3 separate regions of the Homo sapiens genome follow, and all the other regions are linked to region 1. Evidence: fine-mapped expression QTL. A gene starts in region 1. Each other region holds a variant in brackets. All regions are shown on one strand. Distances are between the middles of the regions.

What was found. PIP is the estimated chance that this variant, and not a neighbour inherited with it, causes the effect.
Region 2: its variant is fine-mapped to the expression of LINC02981 in spinal cord (GTEx, PIP above 0.99). The same link has a PIP of 0.9 or more in hippocampus and prefrontal cortex.
Region 3: its variant is fine-mapped to the expression of LINC02981 in esophagus mucosa (GTEx, PIP 0.97).

What each region holds. Positions count from the first base shown.
Region 1 is chr7:26,395,097-26,402,659 of GRCh38, reverse strand. LINC02981 (long intergenic non-protein coding RNA 2981) reads right to left here and starts at 4,091. Exons shown (of 5, transcript NR_148502.1): 1 at 3,639-4,091. SNX10-AS1 (SNX10 antisense RNA 1) reads left to right here and starts at 3,242. Exons shown (of 2, transcript NR_136272.1): 1 at 3,242-3,319. RefSeq lists silencers at 3,555-3,664, 3,755-4,214 and enhancers at 4,685-4,924, 3,999-4,955.
Region 2 is chr7:26,453,829-26,461,391 of GRCh38, reverse strand. All of the region lies in intron 1 of LINC02981 (long intergenic non-protein coding RNA 2981), which reads right to left. Among named protein-coding and RNA genes, the nearest start is that of SNX10-AS1, 58 kb to the right of the region's middle. The variant G/A (reference allele first, on the strand shown) is at 3,534.
Region 3 is chr7:25,728,415-25,735,977 of GRCh38, reverse strand. All of the region lies in intron 1 of LINC03007 (long intergenic non-protein coding RNA 3007), which reads left to right. Among named protein-coding and RNA genes, the nearest start is that of LINC03007, 58 kb to the left of the region's middle. RefSeq lists enhancers at 1,812-2,322, 2,590-3,256. The variant G/C (reference allele first, on the strand shown) is at 3,089.

The DNA.
Region 1 (7,563 bases):
CCCAGGCTGGAGTGCAATGGCATGATCTCCACTCACCGCAACCTCTGCCTCCTGGGTTCAAGCGATTCTTCTGCCTCAGCCTCCCAAGTAGCTGGGATTACAGGTGCCTGCCACCACACCCAGCTAATTTTTGTATTTTTAGTAGAGATAGAGTTTCACCATGTTGGCCAGGCTGGTCTCGAACTCCTGACCTCAGGTCATCCACCCACCTTGACATCTCAAAGTGCTGGGATTACAGGTGTGAGCCACCGTGCCCACCCCCATCTCCTCTATTAAAATTCCTTCTTCTAGAATCCTTCTGAAGGACCTGCCTGTGGCTGTTTTATAGTTAACTTTTATACATATATGTGTGTATAAATATGTGTGTATGCATGTGTAGAAAGTAGTCTAAAATAATAATAAATAGTATAGTAAATGCATAAACTAGTAACAGTTGTTTATTGTTATTATCTAGGATTATGTACTTGATAATGTGGCATACTGTGGTATGTGGTATACTTTTAAATAACTGGCAACGCAGTAGGTTTGTTTACACTGACACCACCACAAGCACACAACTAATGTGTTGCATTAAGATGTTACAAGGGCTAAGACATCACCAGGCGATAGGAATTTTTCAGCTCCACGGTAATCTTACAGGGCCACTATCGTATATGCAGTCCATTGCTGATCAAAACATCATTATGGGGCACATGACTGTATTATTAATTGAAAATATAAGATGTTGAAGATTAACATTCAGCATTAACCCATTTGTGTAAACAAAGAGTAGATATACAGTCATGCACCACATAATGACATTTCGGTCAACAATGGACCAAATATACAACAGTGGACCCATAAGATTAATATGGAGCTGAAAAATTCCTATAGCCTAGTGGCAATATAGCCATCACAATGTTGTAGAGCAATTACCTTTTTAAATATAAATTTAGTGTAGCCTAAGTGTACGGTGTTTATAAAGCCTACACTAGTATACACAATGTCCTAGACCCTCACATTTACTCGCCACTCACTCCACTCACCCGAGCAACTTCTAGACCTGCAAACTCCATTCATGGTAAGTGCCCTATACAGTTGTATTTTTTCTTTTTTTACCATTTATACTGTATTTTTGCTGTACCTTTTCTACATTTAGATACATAAGTACTCACCATTGTGTTACAGTTGCCTACAGTGTTGTTTTTTTTTTTTTGAGATGGAGTCTTGCTGTGTTGCCCAGGCTGGAGTGCAGTGGCATGATCTCTGCTCACTGCAAACTTTACCTCCCAGATTCAAGTGATTCTCCTGCTTCAGCCTCCTGAGTAGCTGGAACTACACGTGTATGCCATCAAGCCCAGCTAATTTTGGGGTTTTTAGTAAAAACAGGGTTTCACCATGTTAGCCAGGCTGGTCTTGAAGGCCAGCCTTGGCCTCCCAAAGTGCAGGGATTTACAGGCGTGAGCCACAGTGCCTGGCCAATTGCCTTCAGTATTCTGTTACAGTACCATGCTGTACAGGTTTGTAGCCTAGGAGCAATAGGCTATACCATATAGCCTAGGTGGGTAGTAGGCTACACCATCTAGGTTTGTATAAGTACATTCTCTGATATTCGTGCAATGATGAAATCGCCTAACGATGCATTTCTCAGAACATATTCCCATCATTAAGAGATGCATGACTGTATATATTTGCATGTGTTTTTAAGTTACTGGAAGAATATACAAAAATATTAATAGTGCTTGTAACAGTGAATGGTATAGAAAGAAGGAAGGAAGGAGTGGGAGGATTCTGTTTTTTATTTCATACACTTCTACAGTGTTTGAATTATTTTTATTGAATATGTTACTTTCATTATTTTTAAAAACATCTTCTTCCCACCTTCTCATCTTGTCTATTTCAGCCTAGCCAACTAGGTTTTCTCAGGACTGAGGTTATTTATTCCATATTAACTCTGTCTCAAGCTCATATGCATCTCCCACGATTATTTTTCCCAAAACACTTTAGGTTTAAGAATGACCTTTCCTAGGTCTTTAGCTTATGATTAACCAAATGAAACCATCACTAGATGGACTCCCTAATTCAGGTGTTGAATTACAAAAATGAATTTTCAGGGGGAAAAAAATGCTAACTCAATTATGTTAGTTAAAATATCAGTAAAATTAGCAATGCCACAGTGTCATGAAGCAGAAGGTCAAAGACCCACACACCCTTTACTGGGCGCCATGGTGGGACTTAACTGGGGCAGTTCCGGTTCTGCCATTAGGACCATGAGCACTCCAATCTCAGTGAAATTGTATAAGACACTGCCATTATCCCCGGATCATTGCCACGATAGACCCAAACAACTCCAGTCTATCGTGTCAATGTGTATTTGGGGAGTCTTTAACACACGGATCATTGGCGAGCTGCACCATAAAAGCCCTGTAGGAGCCGTGGCCGTGTGTGGAATCAATGCACACTCGGGGACTTCCCCACGCCCGGATCATTTGCAGCGCATCGTGTCAATGCATACTCCGGGAGCCCCTACTCCGAAGCCTGTGAGTGCTGAGGAACAGTGTACACCAAAAATACTTATGGAATAGTTGTTACAGTGCGTACACAGTATTCACTTTTCTAAATGGCATGTCAGCAAGTTTAGTGTGCCACAAATAACTCCTAAAAGGCACAAAACACTCCTAGAGGCCCACCTTCACACATGAATGGTTGGTCCATGGAATTGTGGCATGGCTGTGGGGGAGTGTAAGTTTTTCTTTACAGTGAACAAAGGGAAAAGAAAGAGACATCTGCTATTCAGTGTTGTCAGGGTTTTCAGCATAATCCCAAACACCTCCTAATTATTTTCCTGGGCATTTGATCCCTAAGATACAAGGACCTTCCCTCCATCCCTGCCCTGTTCCAAAGTACCTGTAGAGCAAGCTGAGAGGGCAGAGTTAGAGGATGGGTGGGGTTGGGTCTTAAGTGCGATCCCACAGAGATATAATGTGAACCACATGTGTAAATTTAAATGTTCTTTGTGGCCACATTTTTAAAAAAAGATTTAATTCATGATACTTTATTTCACCCCATATACCCAAAATATTATCATTTCAATATGCAATCAATGTTTTTAAATGATGAATGAGCCAGTTCACATTCTTTTTTCCATACAGTCTTCTTTACAATGGGGTGTGTATTTCCCACTTGGAGAACATCCTGGTCTGGCCTGGCCACACTGCAAGCCCTCGGCAGCCTCTTGTGGTCAGTGGCTGCCCCAGTGAGCAGCACAGCTACAGAGGTTCAGGAAAACCAACCCCAGGAGCGTGGATGTTCACTGCCTTCCTTCAACCACTCCAGGCAGGTGCGTCCACCTTTCCTCCTCATTGCCTCACCAGGGCTGCAACTGCCGAACAGCCTTTTCTCGGCAGCCTGACAGAATAGCTGTGTGTTGGGTTTCTGCAATCATAAAAAATGACCACAAATATGCATTCGGAAAGAGGAACGAAAACTCCTCTAGGCCCAAACGGTAATGGCAGTACTAGGTCATCTTTCTTGGAGACGGAGGTGAAGGGAGGGCAAGGGGCCCCTGGGGAAGGAAAGAGGAGGCGGGCGTGGCGTCGAGCGCGAGGGCGGCGGCCTAGCTGCACCCGCGAACTTCCCCACACCTGCGACCAGCTCACCTCGCGGCGTGAGGGATCCCTGGCAGTCGGACGCGGCAGGGTGGCTGGTTTCTGGGGCTGAGTCTGGCCCGACACAAAAGAGGAGGGAAAGGAGAAGGAGACGGAAACAAAGGCGCGGGGGAGGACGAGGAGGCGCGCGCGGTCGCGGGGCAAAGCGGCGATGCGGTGCGGGCGCGCGCAGCCTGGGGCTCCCGGGACCAGCGGGCGGGAGCAGGCGGAGCGGGCAGGGCGATTTGAATATCAGGCTCTGCCACACTCGGGGCGCCGCTGACAACTTCATTACCTCCGCATATAAAAATGACTGCCGGGGAATGCAAATAGCTCGCCTGTCTCAGCCGCCTGCCCTCGTTCCGCCGCCGGCTGCAGGCGGAGGCCCCGGGAGCCGCGGCGGCCGGAGGCGCAGACGCGCCCTGTCCAACATAATGAACTGCCCGGCCGCGGCTCCGCCCACCCCCCAGCCGCCGAGCCGGGCCGGGAGGGGGAGCCGGCCCGGTGCTGGAGGAGGAAGGGGTGGGCGGCCGGGCGCGGCTCAGAGGCCGCGCGTTGCTAGTCAGTGTCGGCGCAGGCCCTGCCTCTTGACTCTGTCATCCAATTACTGCCATGAAAATACCAGGAAACTAGAGTGCTCAGTGGGTTCCACTCGTGACCGCGAACTCTGACGGAAAAGCGGGACCCCCGGCCTCCGTCCCGTGCGCCCTGGTGGTTAAATTGGACGCCAGCATCCCGGCGCCCCGCTCTCGTCTCGCCTGCAAGCGGGCGGCGGGTGTGCTGCGCCCTGCTCCCCAGGCCTGCGGCCACCGGGACAAGGCTGCGTCGCTGTGCAGGACCCGCCTCCCGAACCCTGGGCCTTGCTGAGCTCCCCGTGTGGCCACCGAGGCAAGCCGCGTGCGGGAGGGAACGCAGGCTTCACGGCGCCTCTCTTCTTGCCCTGGCTTGCTCCCTGGCAAGAAGTCACCTCCCGCCTTCTGATAGCTCCCCCTGTCACATTTGGGCCCCTTGTGAACTTCTCGAGGAGAGGAGCTAGGTCACTTTTATTAATAGCAACAACGACAGTAGTAAACATATGCTGAGGACTATTCTACGCAAGGTACTATGCCAACTGCTTTACCTACATGTTTATCACAGCGATCTTATTGCACTCCTGGAAACCCAGGCTTAGCAAAGCCTTGAAAGGTTCCCAGCATAACCCAGCTAAGGTGGGAGGGAGCACAGGTGAGAACCCAGGCCCCTCTACACTCTCAATCACTCTGCAGTATTTTCCGGGTCCTTCTTACAGCTCACACAACTGTCCAGCACTCCTTTGTCCCCCGAACGCATCACCCCCAGCCATCTTAGGCCGGGCCAGCCCCCCGCCCCCACCCTCACCCCCTCCCTCACCCCCTCCCTCACCCCCTCCCTCACCCCCTCCCTCTCCTTGGCCCAGAAGTAAATCCTAAGTAGTCTAAATCCGTTATGACCAACCCCTTCCCTTGCCCAGGCACTGGCTTAGAAAAGAGCATGTGACCAGTCCTGGCCAAGGCCAAGCCAGGGGACATCTGTTGGGGTTTTCTGGGAAATGCTTCCTTGCCCTAAAAAAAGACACCTCTAGCGATTCCAGTTTCTTCTGTTGTAGAATGTATATCCACCACCTGGCAACCACGGAGGAGCCAGGGAACAAAGTTAGTCTTTGCAGAGATTTACAGGATTAAGTGAGCTAACTCCAGGGTTAAAGTTTAGGAGAATCATGTTTTAGTCCTATCTCTACCTGCGATGGAGTCATGCTGCCTCGTGTTTATTCAGGGACATATTTAAAGTTAACTCCTTTTTGAAACGAGACAAGATAAAAAGATGTAAACAAAGGAAAACTCCAGAAATTTGGTCTTGTCTCCATTAAAGAGTGTCTGTTTCTAGGCACTTCAGTGGAACCTCTCACTTCCAGCTTCTCTTCCTGGGCACTCACCTCTAACTCATTCAGCTTTTTTCCCTCAAAGTAGCTCTTTGCCTACACAGGCAAGGCATCTCTTCCCTCCAGGAACATCAGAACCCCCCTTCTAACCCTCCTGCACCCACACACCCAGGCGTCTGAGCTTGACTGCCTTTGAAATGTTTACTGGCCTTCAAGTAGTCTCTTTGAAGAATTTGCATCTAATTTTGAACTTAGGGAAAATCGGGCATAACCAGTCACTTACTAGTTTCCTTGGCAACTACTTTAAAACAGAATCTAAATTGGAATGAAAATGGATTTTTATGGTTTCACTAAAATCATACACACTTTTCATGAAAATATACCAAAAAAACTATAAAAAATATATACATACTATATGCTTTATTCGTTTATCTGGAATCAATACACAGTAACTAACTCAAATATCTCTGTTCCCCACTGCTGAGGAAAGGCACTCCACACTCCCTTAGCAAGACATTTAAGACCCTCCACAATCTGCACCTAACCCAGCTCCAGCCTTATTTGTCTACTACAGTACATCCCCAAATCATGCTATTGCATTTCCTCTCCCATGACATTCTCTAGAATGCCCTTGAACTTCATGTCCAACTGTTCAAATATCACCGATCTTTCCAAGTCCAGATTAAATATCACCTCTTCCAAGAAGCTTTTCCCATTCCTCACATATAATGACACAAATTGAGTTACTTAGTGTTTATTTTCAGCAATATTTAGCATATTTTATTTACTGATACCCAGTATTGTTAAAATAATGCACATTTCCTAACAGTTGGGGGGCTTCAATATTACCATGCAAACAATTAAAATGAGTAATAAATATTATCAGCAGAATTGTATAAATCTTACTCCCAACTTAAGGCTGAGCTGTTCTGTCAGATGTGATAAAATAAAGCTTCATACGCTGCTTGTTTTTCTTAGGATAACTTTGATTTCAGTAATAGAAAACCTGTCTGTAGTAGCTTTAAAAATGAAGAAAATGTAGTATCTCATGTAGGAAGTACCAAGGTAGCAGATGCTAAGTTTGGTTAATTTAGTGGGTCAAAAATGTTTAATGTTGTCAAGTTTTTCTCGTCTTTCTGAAATTCTGCCATCCTCAGCTTGCTGACCTTGTCCTTAGCTAGTTCTCCTCAAGGTCTCAAAATGGCTGCCATAGTTCCAGGCATCACTTTAAGACATGGCAAAGGCCAGCCAAAAAAGTTGACTGTTCTCAAATTTTTTAAGAGTGGAGAAATTATACCAAAGATCCCTCAGATCTTTTCTCATTGGCCAGAACCAGGGCACGTGACTATCTCTAAACTACCACTGGCAAGAGAGGCAAGATTATCAGAATTGATAACTAATCAGGATTTAGTCTTGAATTATTTTGAGGGTAAGGGGAGCGGTGCAGGAGAGCAGGGAATTGACAGGACAGGCAATGCCAAAACAAAAGCTGAATTTTAGTCCGTTTCCCAGTCATCAATTTCTGCAGCCAAACTATCCCAAAGCTTAGTGGCTTAGAAACTTTTTTATTTTTTCTCTAGAATCTGGACAGGGCAGCTCCCAAGGAATAAGGAATAAGGGAGGATGGCTATTGAGTAGGCACTAAAAGTATCAGCAACTTTTCTTTTCTTTCTTTTTTTTTTTTTTTTTTTGAGATGGAGTCTTACTCTGTTGCCCAGGCCAAGCTGGAGTGCAGTGGCACCATCTCAGCTCACTGGAACCTCTGCTTCCCTGGTTCAAGGAATTCTCCTGCCTCGGCCTCCCAAGTAGCTGGGATTAAAGGCGCATGCCACCACGCCTGGCTAATTTTTGTATTTCTAGTAGACACGGGGTTTCACCATGTTGCCCAGGCTGGTCTCAAACACCCAACCTCAGGTGATCCTCCCACCTCGGCCTCCCAAAGTCCTGGGATTACAGGCGTGAGCCACCACGCCTGGCCAGTATCAGCGACTTATGATGGCTTTTTATTTGAAGATCAAAACCAATCACACTTTGATTATT
Region 2 (7,563 bases), 59 kb before region 1:
AAACACAGCATTGACATTTTTAATAAGAAATCACTATCAGAGATGGTCTACAACAGTGTCAGCATCCTGTCTACTTTCTGTTGGCAAATGTTCAGCAGCAACAAGGCAACCTGAAGACAAGGTTTGGTGAACATTGAATTGAGACAGGAAAACTAAGTGTTTAAGTGGCACCATGATAGGATGGGATGTTCTTCCCAAAGGGGACCTGAATCCTTGAAATCTGTTGATTACAGACTTGTGATATCTATGATTTCTGACACCGTATTGGAGATGCATCTTTCAAGAGGCCTAGAAATTACCCGTCGATTGACTTCAGCTCCTTCTCTTTTGGACAAGGTTTGGGCAGTCCCTGCTAACATTTGCCTTTGAGTCCCTTTTTTTGTCCTGCTTCCATGCTGAGTAAACCCTCTCCTTTCTGATCAAAGCATTATTTCTTTAGATTTGCTAATAAAATTGCTCAAACAAGTTGCAATTGAGGGTGTGGGCTTGGAAAATTTTCAGCTCCTTCGGATGACTTCCAGCAGCTGCACTGTGATCCATTTTGTGCTAAAGGTTTAAATCTCAGAGAAACAACAGCCCCTCTTTATGGAGTTCTTAGGGACACCTTCTGGAGCCCCCAAGTACTTACAACAACCATGATTACCCATCTTTTTCAGTTTTCTCCACATATGCGTAACTAGGGAGAAGCTAGAATATCTCTTTTCTGTGCAGTTAGGCTGGGAACAGAAACCAGAGATGTCTCTAACAGTGACTGATGCAAAGATGATGATCTCACTAGAGAAGCAGGGCCTTCCCTCTCTTGCTTCTCCTTGGCTTCGTATGCCAGTAATTGCCCAGTGTCCATGAAAAATTGCAGCTAAATCCCAGGCTGAGAGCTCAAAATGGACTTTGGACATTTCTCTTCCTGGCAGACTTCTGTGGAAAGAGTTGAAGGATTGCTGGCAGTGAGAATGTCTCCATGAAAAGTCACCTGGTGGAGGTCAGGGGCGAGGGCCCAGGGTGAATTTTACCTTAAACAGGACAGATCTGCAGATAAACAAAGGGAACCATGGTTTTGAGCCTGGTTAGTTTCTTAATCCTTTGTAAGCACATACATCATTCCCTGCAAATTCTTCCTCCAAACTGGAATTCACCGGAAGAAATCAACTTATAGAGGCAGCTGTTTCTTCTCTTGCATGTCTTCTGTTAAACAAAATAAACTGTACAACTAGCAAGATTGATGGTAATAATATTAAGTCCAAATAATCCAAATCGATTCCATCAAGACCTGGAAAGGTAAGCTGGGGATAACGTTACAGTAAAGGCATGGTTCTTGGGAGACGGTAAAAGTGTTACATTCTGTGCTACCTTTAACCTACAGAACATGTTCTTAGGAGTCAGGCCAACCTGCAATTAAACCCCAGCTTTGCTGTCAGGTCATTCTGAGTCAGGTTGGGCCATTTTCCAAATCATAAAGTAGGCTAAGGTTTGATGGAAGAATTCAATCAGAGAGCATGTATCAAGAGCCTGGGCGAGTGCTTGGCACAAAATGGGTGCCGAATAAGTGGTGGTTTCCAGCTCTCTTTCTTCCACTCTAAAACAAGCACAGCCTAGCCTGTGCATTTAACAAGTAGCTCCTGCCACAAACCCATGTCCTTAGATGATACAGCAAATCCATACCCTTGATGAATGGCTTTACAATGGGCTACCCTTGTGCTGTATATCCTAAATGGACAGAGAAGCATCTAAGAAATCTAAAAGAAGCAAACTACCTGTCTCCATAACTCCAGAGCAAATCACAGTACCAAGGGCTGATTTGATGGGAAATCCCCCATCCATCACCACAAGGAGCAAAGCTGTGCCTGGGTCAGCCCAATAAGTAGCCATCCAGGAAATCCAGGTGTGCAGGGGGTTGGGAGAGGAACCAAGAAGAAGAAGCTAGAGGTCATTGGCTTTTCCCTGACCTCCGGCTACATTTCAGGGCCACCTTTAGGATGCCCCAACCTCTCTTCACACCACAGAAAGAGGACTTTGAAGATGTAGGTGGTGTCCCAGCTCCAACAAGGCAGGTTGTTCAGGGACTAACCAAGAGAGGGAGGTTGGAAAGTACTGGGGGTGTCCCATTGCCTCCCTTGTCCTTTCTTGACAGCCCCAATACAATTATAGATCCCCTGAGACCAAATTGTTTCCTTTTTAAGCTGTCCTTACATTTGGAACTCCCATAAAGAAAGCAATAAAATGAGAGGTACCCTCACACTGCCATGTGCAGGTGTTCCAAGTCGCAGCGAGTCATTTGAATCCCCACTTAGGCCAGCAGATTCATTCCATCTGTGCTTACAATTCAGTTGAGATCAGAATTTTCTGATGCACAGCTTTCCTGAAATGTCTGTTTCTCCATTGTTTTTCACATTCCAAAGGAGAAAAATCATCATTTCCATCCACATTATTAGAAACAAAACTAGCCCCTTTTCTCCCCAGCCCATATTATTGCCTCATTACAAATATATTTTGTGCATCAACCTTAAAGGTTATGTTTCCCTCCTGCTTCCTCCTTTCATTATACAAGATTTCCAGTTATCCAGTATTTTGTTCTCATTAGAACACTGCTTGTCACATGTTTTCACCAGAGACATTCATCACCAAGGTCAAAGGGTGAATATCGTGATCTATTATGCTTAGAGGAATCTAATGAAAAGCCACATAATTATCCAATTTAAAGAGAAGCAAGTAAAAAAGAAGGGGAGCACTTGCTATAATTTAAATTGTTTTGTTTCCCTGAAGCAAAATTCAGCACCTGATTGACAGGACCTAATGATAATTCTTATTGATACGGTGATGTTAATTGTGGAGAGATATTTAATAAGTCCCATATTCTGGAGGTAAATGCGTGCTCTTAACCTGCACCTGAACCTGATTTTTGATGCAGCGTGGGGATGAGGTACAGATACAGATAAGTGAGCACAAGTGGATTTTCAGTCTTGTGTGGCAGAATGGAAATTGGAATCTTCAGAATCTATTAGGAGAACAATTCCACAGTTGCTCACACTTTTATAAATTATACTGTATATTACAGAAAGACACAAAGTCAGGGGAGTTGCAAGAAGAGGATATTGTCATGACTTTACAGAGAAGTTTTTAGGGTAGCATTTGGTGACGGTGGTGGTGGTGGTGTTTTCAACTAAAGACACACATCAAAGAACGTGATCTGTATTCATTTTTAAACAAAATGCACTAATGAAATCCACATCCTGAATCATCTCTCTGCCACCCCCAGGTAAAGCTGACCTTGCAGAAAATGAGGCCAACTCTGAAACATAGGTAGATTCTTGGAAGAAAATGACTTCTTACACCGTGAACAAAACCATTTGAGAAGGCCTTCATGGGTCTAAATTACAAAAGGAAGTGATCCGTGCGGGCTGAAAACATCAACTAGATCTGCATCCCATCATGAGATGGCTGGGAGGCAGGAAACAGCTGCTGGAGCTGTGGACAGGCCTGAGGTCATCTCTGACTTTCTGAGAGGCCATTTCAAAGCCACTATCTGGACAAGAAAC[G/A]ATGGGTGACCAGATCCAGCTCTGTGTGATTCAACTCTGTACACCAGTGAGCCATCCCTCACAGAGAAGCTGTGTGTTCCTGGTGTTTTTTATTACGTGCTAAATACCAGAACTTTAAAACTGCATCTGTGATTGTCATGAGACAATGCCATCATTTTGGAACTAATACTCACACCGCCATCTTTGTGCAAATAATACAAGGTTAAAAAAGAAATAAAGAAAGAAAGAAAAACAAAAGAAAAGAAAAGAAAAGAGAGCTGCTCTAAAGACAAATAGACTTGAAAAAAATGAGTCAACTTGGAAAAAAGAAGTAACCAAAGTGGCTTAAATCTGAGGGACGGCAAATTGTTCAAATTAATTTCTTTCAACTCCAAGTTAACTCAGTCTTCCATTTTTACTTATGAGAAAAGAATATTACATGGTGAGTATTCTAATATAACCTGCTTAATGTAATTATTCATGCCAAAGCATAATTAACTTCAAAATAATCAAGCCACAGATAGTTATAACCTGAGTCACAGTGGGTCACTGTTACTAGAAGAGAAAGCTCTCAATCTACAAATAGGAACATGAGAGTAAAAATGTAATCATTAAAGGGTGTCAAGGAAAACAAGAGTAATTTTTAATGAAGAAAATGTTTAAAATGTCCTAAACATTTCAAGATAAGATTCTTCTTGAGCTTAGTTAGCAGCTGGGGTCTGGCACATCGGGGGTGATCAGTAATGAGCAAAGACCAGACATTCTTTTTTGCTTCCTGAACTTGCTTCATTTTTTTTTTGCTTTTAATACACACACACATACATATATACATATCCTTGGAATAGTTCAGATATAAATTATATTGACTTTGAGCCATGTACTTACCTTCACTGAAAAAAAAAGTCAAGTTAATTGGAGACGACCAAATTGATCGCGGGTTATGATACCAATAGCAGCTGAAATTGCTGCTGTGATTTTCAACTGCCTAAGCCAAAGCATTACATCATGCACAGGAGATTATAATTTCTCTGAAGAACACTTCTGGTATCTCACCACCCGAAAAGTGATATGCCAGCAAATTGATGAGAGTTCAGAGAAAAGCAATAAAAATAATTAAGGATTGACTGATGGAAAAAGATGAAAAGAATTGAATGTGGGCTGCCTGACCCAAAAATGACCTGGGTGGTTATAGGAACATTACCCAGGTATCTGGAGGGTCAAGATTCCTGTCTGTCCACACAGCAAAACAATGCAATAATAAACAAAACAAAGCTGTTGGATAATTCACTCCATGATTTGCTCTGGAAGCTGGTGCTGCTCTGGGCCAAAAACCAGGGTCATGTCTACTCTGAGCAGTCACCAGCAGTCACTCTATGCTTCTGTGTGTCTCTTAGTGTGGGCTCAAGGCTGACATGGAGGCTGGGATGCCACTGATGTTCCCCTATTTCCACTCTGGTGCTGTCTAACCATACACTCATCCTATGCCAGACACCTGGGTCCTTGAAATGGCCTGCAACCCAAAAGAGAAAAGGTAAAGACTGGTTAACATCATGGTTGAGAGTCTGGGTTCAACTCTCAGCTCCAATACTTTCCAGCTGAGTGACCTTGGGAAAGTTACTCAACCTCTCTGAGATTCTGTTTCCTCACTTGTAAAATGGAGAGAGGAATAGTGCCTTCCTTCTAGGATTGTTGAATGAAATTTTTCACATAAAGCACTTCTCAGTGCCTGGTGTGTAGTAAGTGCTCAACAAATGGTCGCTACTGTTCTTATTTATTATAATTAGCAGCAAGGGCCAGGAACACCTGAAGGGGCAACAAAGATCTGACTCTCCTAGTAGGGGTTCCAGGCCCTAAGACATTCACCATGACTTGCCTGGCCAGTGCCTGAACAGATGTTCACTAATGTTATCGATGTGCCTCTCCACCCCCCACCACCCAAACATGCCAGTTTCCTTTATATCTATTATAGGCTGGGGGACCAAATGTCCTAATTTGCCCAGGACAGTCTTTATGCCTGTTGACCTAGGGCAATTACTAATAGGACCCTCTTTCTGTCAAATCAGTTATGATGATGAATGATATGGTCAGCCTAGTTATGAATCTCTCAACATCTTTTTTTCTAAACCTTTTCTATCCTGCATCATCTCTTGACAATGAGTTTCTTAAGTATATTGAAGTTACTGTGAGAAAGTATTTTTACCAGTCCTGACCTTACCGAGGTCAACAGTTTTGCCATCTCAGGAGCTGGTGAATGGATCCACGGTCACCCTAGTCCCATATTGTCCACACTTCACTGTGCTCAGACTAAAGAGCCTAGCCAGTTAGTCTGTCCCACACTGATAAGCCTTCTGCATTCCCACTTTCATTTTAGTTGATTTGCTCTGGAAAATGTCCAGTGCCACTGGATCTTCTTTAAGAAGCATAACTGAAACTTTACTTTAGGTTTAAGTGAATGAAATAGTCCCTCTTTTTATTCCAGGGTTTGGAGTCAGGGGATCCAAGTTTGAGTGCTAGCGCCATCCTTTATACCTGCGTGACCTCAGGTAAATCACTTCATCTCTCTGAGCCTCACTTTCCTTATCTTCATAATGGCAATAATGTGTAGATAGTCATGCAATCTACAAATAGTGATAGCTTTACTTCTTCCTTTCCAATCTGTGGGCCCTTTTTTTCTTGCCTTATTGCACTAGCTAAGACCTCCAGTACAATGTTGAATAGAAGTGGTAAGAGTCAACACCCTTGCCTTATCCCACTCTTATGGGAAAAGAGTTTAACATTTTACCACTAAATATGTTACCTGTAGATTTTTCATAGCTGACCTCATAACAGGTTGAAGAAATCCCCATCTAGTCCTGGTTTACTGAGAGTGTTGAGTTTTGCCAAGTGCATTTTCTCTACATATTTAGATGATTACATATGTTCCCCATATTCTGTAACTTATTAAATGATAGTAATTAAATTTCAAATGTTTAAAGAATCTTATATTCTTGGGATAAATCCCATCTATTGCTGGACTCAATTTGCTGTATTTTGTTAATAACTTATGTGTCTCTTATTGATGTGATGCTATAAGAAAAGTATCTTTTCTCTATTCCTGTATCTGAGAATCAAATGAGATTGTGAATGTTAACATGTTTTCTAGACTGTAAAGTTTTGTCTACATGTGGACTCCAAAGCTGCTGCAGCTGCTAACGATGATGGCAAGGAATAGCACAAAGATGACCCTTGCCAAGGCAGCAGCCCACAGGCCGGTCAGGAATCAGCCTCCACAGCCCATTCCCACTCTTATAAATTCAGTCATAACCAATAACTCAGAACCCTCAGCCTGCGAGTCCAGCAAGGATGCCTCCTGGATTTTCCAACAAGGCCTCAATCTTAAATAATTCCTTCTATTGTCAACCTCATCAACCATGTGTCCTGATTTTAAGAGTATTTTTCCCTGAGTGCATTGACTTATTCTTGCCCACAGGAAGCTCATCTGCCACTTTCCTGATGACTCAAGTAGACTCAAAACATTTTCCCACAATCTGGCCAAACTCAGGAAATGGTAGGGCTTGTGATATGTGTATTGTTTTAATACATCTGTAAAGATTTTAGTCTCTACTTAGGAACTTAGGAAATTTAAAGTCAAGGACGGTATCTCAATTTTGACAAAAGTCACTGAAAATATCCGATGTTGTACATTTCTTGCATAATCCTGCATGTTCTCTCTTTCATTTATTGGCAAATCTGGGTCTAAGTGCAGGATACATAGAAGAAAGTAAGCTGGAAAAGGCACTGGCCCCCTCAGTCCAGTCTAGTTTTGTTCAGATTTGTTCTTTGTTTGTTTGTTTGTTTTTAGAAACAAGGTTCTACTCTATTACCCAGCTAGAGCACAGTGCTTCTATCTTAGCTCACTGCAACCTCAAGCTCCTGAGCTCAAGTGATCCTCCTGCCTCAGCCTCCTGAGTAACTGGGACTACGGGCACATGACACCATGCCCGGCTAATATTGTATTTTTTTATTTTTTATATTTTTAACGATGGAGACTCTCTATGTTGCCCATGCTGGT
Region 3 (7,563 bases), 670 kb after region 1:
TGGGTTTGGATATGTTTAGATACACAAATCCTTACTACTGTGTTACAATCGCCTACAGTATTCAGTACAGTAACATGCTCTACACGTTTGTAGCATGGGAGCAATAGGCTATAGCATATAGGTTGGGTGTGTGGTAGGCTCTACCATCTAGGTCTGTGTAAGTACACGCTATGATGTTCACACGATGATGAAATCGTCTAGCAATGCATTTCCCAGAAGATGTCCCTGTCATTAAGCCATGCCTCACTGTACCTTGAAAATCCCTGAACACACTGGACACCCCTGGGTCCTGGTGAAGATGCCCTGTCTGCTTGGATTTAGAACCATTTTCAACTCATCTCAAGTACCAGGAGGAGCTGCTCATCTTGTAGATCTGGGCTGTTCAGCAGTGAAGGGGTTACGTGTAAGGGTGATCAAAGATTTAAACTGTCATGTCGACAGTAAGCCGAGGAACAGGCTGTGCAGGGGCCTTAATAAATCTGCCCTTGACTTATGGCCGAACCTCATTCAGCAGAAAATTATTTCTGCAGCATATTGAATGCTCTGCTCTGATGGAGACAGAAATAAAAAGAAAGGTGGAAATGGGGAGAAGAGAATGGAAATTCAATCCACATGTGGTGGAGAGGACTCTTCAGTAAATTCTTTCTCAGATGAAATAAGAAACAGAATGTGTAGGACTCTTGGAATAGGGTACATTCCTTTGATTACTAAAATGTCTTAGGGGACGAAAACGGACAAGCAGTGATTCTCAGAAAAGATCGATCTGGAGGATGGGAGTGGGGAAGGAGGGGGCAAACCTCTCCCTTAGTGATTTAGACATGATTGCTCATTTATTTATTTGTTTAGTCAATCAGGCTTTATTGAATGTTTACCTACTGTGGCCATTGAGATGAGCAAGACATCTTAAGGAGTTTGCAGTGACTGAGTTAGAGCCACATGTTCACTGAGCATCTAAAATGTCAGGCACCAGCTCAGTGCAATACAGCACAACGCAGACACACCTCTGGAACCTTCTCTGAGTCAAATCTGAGACTCTGTAGTAGGGTTCCAGGTATCAGAGGAGGGTCAGCAACTTTTTCACAAGACATTTCCCCAATTCAGTATAAGGAATAGGGGCTTCATTAATTGGAAAGGTTGATTTGGGAAAAAAACCCAGTCCCTTTCTCAGATGATATGGGATTTAAATCTCTTATTGCTTTTCCTTAGGATATTTTAGAAAGAGAAGAAAGGGTTAAGATTGGGGGCTTCTGTATTTTTCAGTCCAGTTTATAAAAGTATGAAGGATCCTTCCAATCCCAGACCAGAGAAAATTTGAATTCAAGAGATAATTTAGGAGACAGAACTCCTTCTCTTTCCACCAGTTCTGAAACTATTGGGAAAAGCTCAAGAAAACGCAAGAAAATAATCCAAACATTTCCTCTTCTAAATAATTTATTCACTGTTTTTTTTTTTCTTCCTATACTTTCATTCCCAGAGCTGTAATGAGTTTTAGAAACACAAGGTGTCAGATATTGACTTTTTGTTGTTGTTGAGTTCTCTAAATTCATGACCCCTCTGGGCATTCTAGGCATAGATAATATATAATTCAAAGAAGAGAGCTGCAGCTTTCATCTTCTCTTTCTTGTAAGTTTTGGAGCTTTTTGTTCAAAGGGTGATCTGTTCTGCTGCAGTAGAACCAGCCCTGTTTCCAAAAGTTTTGGCAGAGGACATGGTGCCCTGTGGTACCTTAAGGCTTTGGGAGACTCTCCCTAACTGGGTTCCATGCTTCTGTGAGTTGGAAGTGTGGATTCGTCCTGTCCTGTCCAAGGTTGGCTCTGCTGTTGATCTGCACCAAAAACGAAGGAGAGAGAGCAAGATAGAACCAGCTAGCTGTCTTAGGGAAAGGGTTGAGGCAAAGGCCAAGGCCATGTGTGCAAATGAAGATTCTCATCTGCAAATGAGAGTGGTGGTTGGATGAATTGGGGTAAGGAAGTCCAGGGGTTAAACGGAGGAATTTTGCTGAAGATAATCTCTCAACCTTCAAGAAACAAAGAGACAATTAGCCCAGAGATGGCTCCACAAAGGACTGGATTACCAGTTCACAGAGCAGGGCTAACCACTCCAACATGAAGTATTCCAGAACGGTTTGTCTCTGAGTGGGTTGTGTGTCTGGGTGTCCTTGATGGGGAACCAATTCATAGATGCTTCTGTGACTTTTCTCTAGCTCTATCTCTTGAGATGTTGCTATCTCTCTTTCTGAGAAAGGAAAGTTGAACTCCGAGTTGCCTGAAGAGGACAGGGGCTGTGGTTATCTCCCCAGGTAAACCTTGGGAGAGCCTTGGGGTTTCAGAACTGAAGAGGTTGATGAAACTGACTATGGCCAAGAAGACTGACTACTACTAATCAGCTCCTCTCCTCATGTTAAATAATTAGTAATGTATTATTGAAATATATTATTCATAAGCTCAATTTAATATCTTTTTGTGCACACATATATATATTTAGTTTTTATTTTTCCTCTCTCCTTCCTTTATGTAGTTATTAACTATTTAACTATATAAATAAATTTCATCCTAACAGGGCATTCTGGCAAAGCATATAGTAATATAGATGCAGAGAACCTTGTGATTACTTATGTCACTCTGGGTAAAATATGTCATCACTCTATTCCTGGCTTTCCCCATTTGTACAAAAAGAGAACACACCTCTTTTACTTTTCTCAGTGTAAAGACTAAGACGATCTAGTGTGGTAGGAGTTACTAAGAAATTATTTTAGGCAGATAGAGAGGAAAAAAGGGGTCCTTGGAAGATTTTTCGCGGCTCTTGTCTAGCATGAAAGAGAATCCTGACTCTTAGACCCCAGCTGGCAACCTTTGATATGCAAATGCAAACCGTTAGAAACTGGATCCACCCAACATGGCCGGCTGGCAACCTTTAATATGCAAATGCAAGGCGTTAGAAACTGGGTCCACCCAACATGGCGATTCCCACCGTTGCCCTCTTACCCTTGCCCCCACATGTGCCTAGCAGCATGGTTGCCCCCACATATCCCCAGGTGTGTGGAACATCATGGCGCCCTACATTTGCATGTTAAAAGACTAGGGTGAGA[G/C]AGCCAGTTTTTTCACGGTCTACGTGAATGACATGCCTTGTCAAACCAATCCCCTGAGCCCCATGCAAATCAGACACCGCCTCCTCCAGCCATCGAATATAGCTAGTTGATAGCAGGGTTCCCTCTCAGCTTTGGAGCCCTCCCTCCCTCTGTCTCTGTACAGGGAAGCTTCTTCTTTCTTTCTTCCCCCTTCTTTCTTGTCTATTAAACTCTCTGCTCCTTAAAACTACTCCATGTGTGTCCGTTTCATTTTTTCTAATTCTACTCGAGATGAAGAACCTGGTGTTCTCCACTCATCAGAGCCCTGTCACTAGCTCCTCACCCCATCTCCACTAAGACTTGAAGTTCTTCGAGAAGCTTGTACAGAAGTAAAAATAAGGATGATTTTCTTTCATTTTAATGACCATCATTTGGCTACTTTCATTTAGAACTGGAAAAAAATCTGTAGATACTTGATGATTTCACGAATAGTTTAAGCATTATGATTTATTTGGATTCCTAACTGAGGAATAAGTTCACCTTGTCTCTCTAGGAGCCCACATAGCTCTTTGTGCCCCATCCTGCCATCCATGTGCCCAGATGAGATTTTCAAGGACTTTTCTTGCTGTCCTTGAGAGGTAACTGTTAGGAAGTGTCTGGCCAGCGATCGCTGCGACTGAAACCCCTTTCTTTTCCCTTTACCCTGGATGGTCTCCCCTTTCCTTACCTAAGCCAGATTTCCTTTCCTCACACTTGAATCCAGAGTTCACACTGGAGAAAAGGGTTGGAGAAGTCAGAGGAAACCTTTGACAAATGCCTTGGGGTGAGGGGTGAGTAGGAGGATGGAGAAGCTAAAGAAAAAAGAAAAAAACAACAAAAAAACCTTAGGCTAAGAATGAGGAGGAGGAGGCAGCAGTGACCTGGAGGAGGCTTTAGATATCAGTTGCTTTTAATGTTCCTGATTTAACCTGAAACAAAGGAGACCCGAAGCTTTTAAAAGAAAAGAAAACCATGGAACTGAAACAAAGCTGATCAATTATAAGGGAGGGTGTTATATCAATATTCACCATGTCAGGTTATTCCATCCTGGGAGGTGTAATGAAAGCCCCCGATTGGCTTGATTAAAACTCAGAAGAAGATGAAGAGAAAGGAATGTGTCTGAGTACAGCTGTTCAAAATGCAAACTTGTTTTTTAGCTTGGTATATCTAAGATTGAAACATCGCCAAATAATTGCTGGGAAAGTATTTGGTTAGGTTTCAAAAGACTGTTTAAAGAAACTGACTAGCTGTAAAAATGGAATATTCGGAATGGCTGTCTGGGAAAAATAAAATTAAGAACTGGAAAGACGTGCTCCATAGGCATAAGGGAACAAAAAACAGTGTAGAGGAGGAGATGGTATTTTGTATTTTTAAGGATGAGAGTGAAGGTGTCTGAGCAAGAGTTAATTTGCCAAGTTTTGAGTTGTGAATTTTTTCCTTGCTGTGGTTTCCAGGAAGGATTAGGACTTTAGTTTTTATGCAAAGTGGCATCTTATTATAGAACAAAAGGTGACAGCCTCGAGTTACTGTATCTAAAATCTGGAATTCTGCTTCAGGCATTCATCTCGCATCTAGTTAACTTTAGAAATAAAATCAGAGGGAATTTGGCCCTCAGGTTATAGGGCTGGAAAATGCTTTGAGAGGCCTTCTAGTAGGATTACTTCTAAACTCGCCCTGACAGATGAAAATTTATCTTATTTTTAAATGTTCCCCAGAGGAAGAGTGTCCACAGACTTCCTTAGTAACTCATTCTAGTTTTTAACGACCTCCACATTCAGGAAATTCCTTCTTCTGTCTTACCTAAACCACTCGGCCTCAGTTTAAGTCCATTTTCTTTTGATCTGCCCCAGTAGAGATGGAAAAAAGTGGGTCACCATTTTGCACAAACATCCTTTCACGTAATTGAAGATTAATTTTTAAAATCCAAAAAGTTCTCTATCTCCTCTTTATCTCATTGAATCTCCCCACTTCCTTTAGCCTTCTTTCCCTTGGTAGTTCCATCTTCCAACCTGTTATCCACATTTGCCGTTGCCTCAGACACTTCCTCTGTCATCTGAAGCCCATTTTGTAGGCTGGGAGAGATGGGAGAAAGTGGCAATGCACATCTCTCCTTATTTCTTTGGGCTGCCTGTGCTGGAACTCATATAACAAGCTATATATTGGCCTGATAATGTTTAAAGATTTTAACATTTTTCTTGCCCACATTATAATTGTTTTCAAAGTCAAATTTTGCTCACACAGTAGTTCTGTGGGCATTTACAGAGGCATATATTATATCTTTAGGTTTCAGAAGGGCAAAACCAAATTATGGCAATACGTTAATGTAATATACTAAGAATTATTCAGTATAGGCCGGGCGCGGTGGCTCATGCCTATAATCCCAGCACTTCGGGAGGCTGAGGTGGGTGGATCATGAGGTCAAGAGATCGAGACCATCCTGGCCAACATGGTCAAACCCCGTCTCTACTAAAAATACAAAACTTAGCTGGGTGTGGTGGCACGTAGCTGTAGTCCCAGCTACTGGGGAGGCTGAGGCAGGAGAATTGCTTGAACTCAGGAGGTGGAGGTTGCAGTGAGCTGAGATCATGCCACTGCACTCCAGCCTGGCGACAGAGCAAGACTCTGTCTCCAAAAAAAAAAAAAAAAAAAAAAAAAGAAGAATTATTCAGTATAATGCAAAAAGCAAATTCAATAGTTGTTCCTAGATTAGAAAAAAAAGTTTTTGCCCAGGAGGTCTTTTCACTAGGTATGAGCATTTCAGTAAATAGCCTCTCAGCATTGCCCAACTGTTATTTGATATTTTCCATGAACTGGTTTCTTGGGTTGAACTCCTGATCTTTCCCCTAGTTCTTGGTGATGAGACCCTAGAATCTAATTAGATATCACATTCGCCAGCACTTTACCCAAATGCTTCCAGGACAGGGCAAAGTCTCGATGTGTTTTCTTGGGTATCAAAGCTGTTGGCTAAACAAAGTAATGGATTTTTTATAATTTACTTTTGCTTTAAATGAGGTCCTATTATTATCTGTTTGCACAGTTTCCAACAGGTTTAGATATTTGGGGATCAGAGAATCACTGACATGGACATGACTTTACAACTGGCATTAAAAAAAATTTCTAAAGAACTCTAAAAAGATTTTGAGACAGTTTCAGATTTCCCCACAGTTTTCAAAACATGGTTGTGAAGGTTTAAATGGGAAACAGGTGCTTTTAAAAATCAATTGATATTTTGATGAATCATGTGTTTACTTGTACTTGTGTCTTAGCAAAAGACCGTGGAGAAAATAAAAACATAGAGAAAGCAGGCTACTTGTCAATCATTCTGTAGAATGAGTTCATAGCAAACCAGGGCACAGTGCTACATTGGAAGCTGGAGTCCTAGAGGCCTCATGTTCCTCTGATTTTATTCTTATTCATTAGAGGACACCTATCATGGGCCAGGCAGTAGTCTAAGCACCAAGGTTACTGCAGAGAATAAAAAGAGACAGAAGTCTTTGCTCTCAGAGAACTTACATTTAATTTTGGTTTTATACATTTATCTTCTCCAGGATCTATTAGAGTTAGAAATTTTTGTTTAAAAAAATTTAAAAAAGAACTTTACTTTCAAAAATGCATCCCTTATTTTGCAGCCATTAAAAATTATTATTTATGGAAAGGGTATGGTAATGCAGCAAATGCTTGGTGGGTTACCATACTAAATGACAAGAAGGATACAAAGTTGTATATGCAATTTTTCCTAAGTCAAAACTAAAATCAACAATATAATCATCCCCTTTTACACACACACACACACACACACACACACACAAGTAAAGGCTACAAAGAATATGCGTGCCAAAAATACAACAAAATTTTAATGGTGCTTGTGTTTCAGTAGCAGAATGATGGGCAATTCTTTTGCTTTTTACTTTTCTGCATTTTTTTTGTAGTAATCATATATTACTTTAATAATAGAATGACACATGTTCATTGAAAGAAAATAATTCCTTTCAATCTTTAAAGTCTTTAAAGTTTTGCAGTCTCTCATTAAAATACACCTGGGATGAATCAATTCTTAAGCCATCATCAGTAAAGACTTGAAAGATACACACCTGGGGAAGACAGACACCTCCAAAAGGGAGGAGCCTGGAAGGAAGCAAAATCAGATTTCAGTCCCGTCGCACTTTTCCTTGTCCTGGGCAGCTACCTGGCAGCAATTTCATGTTGTTCTTTCAATTAGGGATAGAGTGAAGACATGATCATTTGGTAAATGCGTTAGGCATTGTATATTGCATTCCATTTAACAAGTGAGGAAATGGCTCGGTGGCACTATGGAGTTGCTTAAAGAAAGTAAGAAGTGTAGTGAGGATTCACAGCCAGGTCTGGAGAGAGGCGATGAACTGTCTTCCCTGAGCTTCCAGAGATGCCTCTCAGACTTCAGGACAGCTTTCTGAAGGTTCTGGGGAGGGTTGAGATTT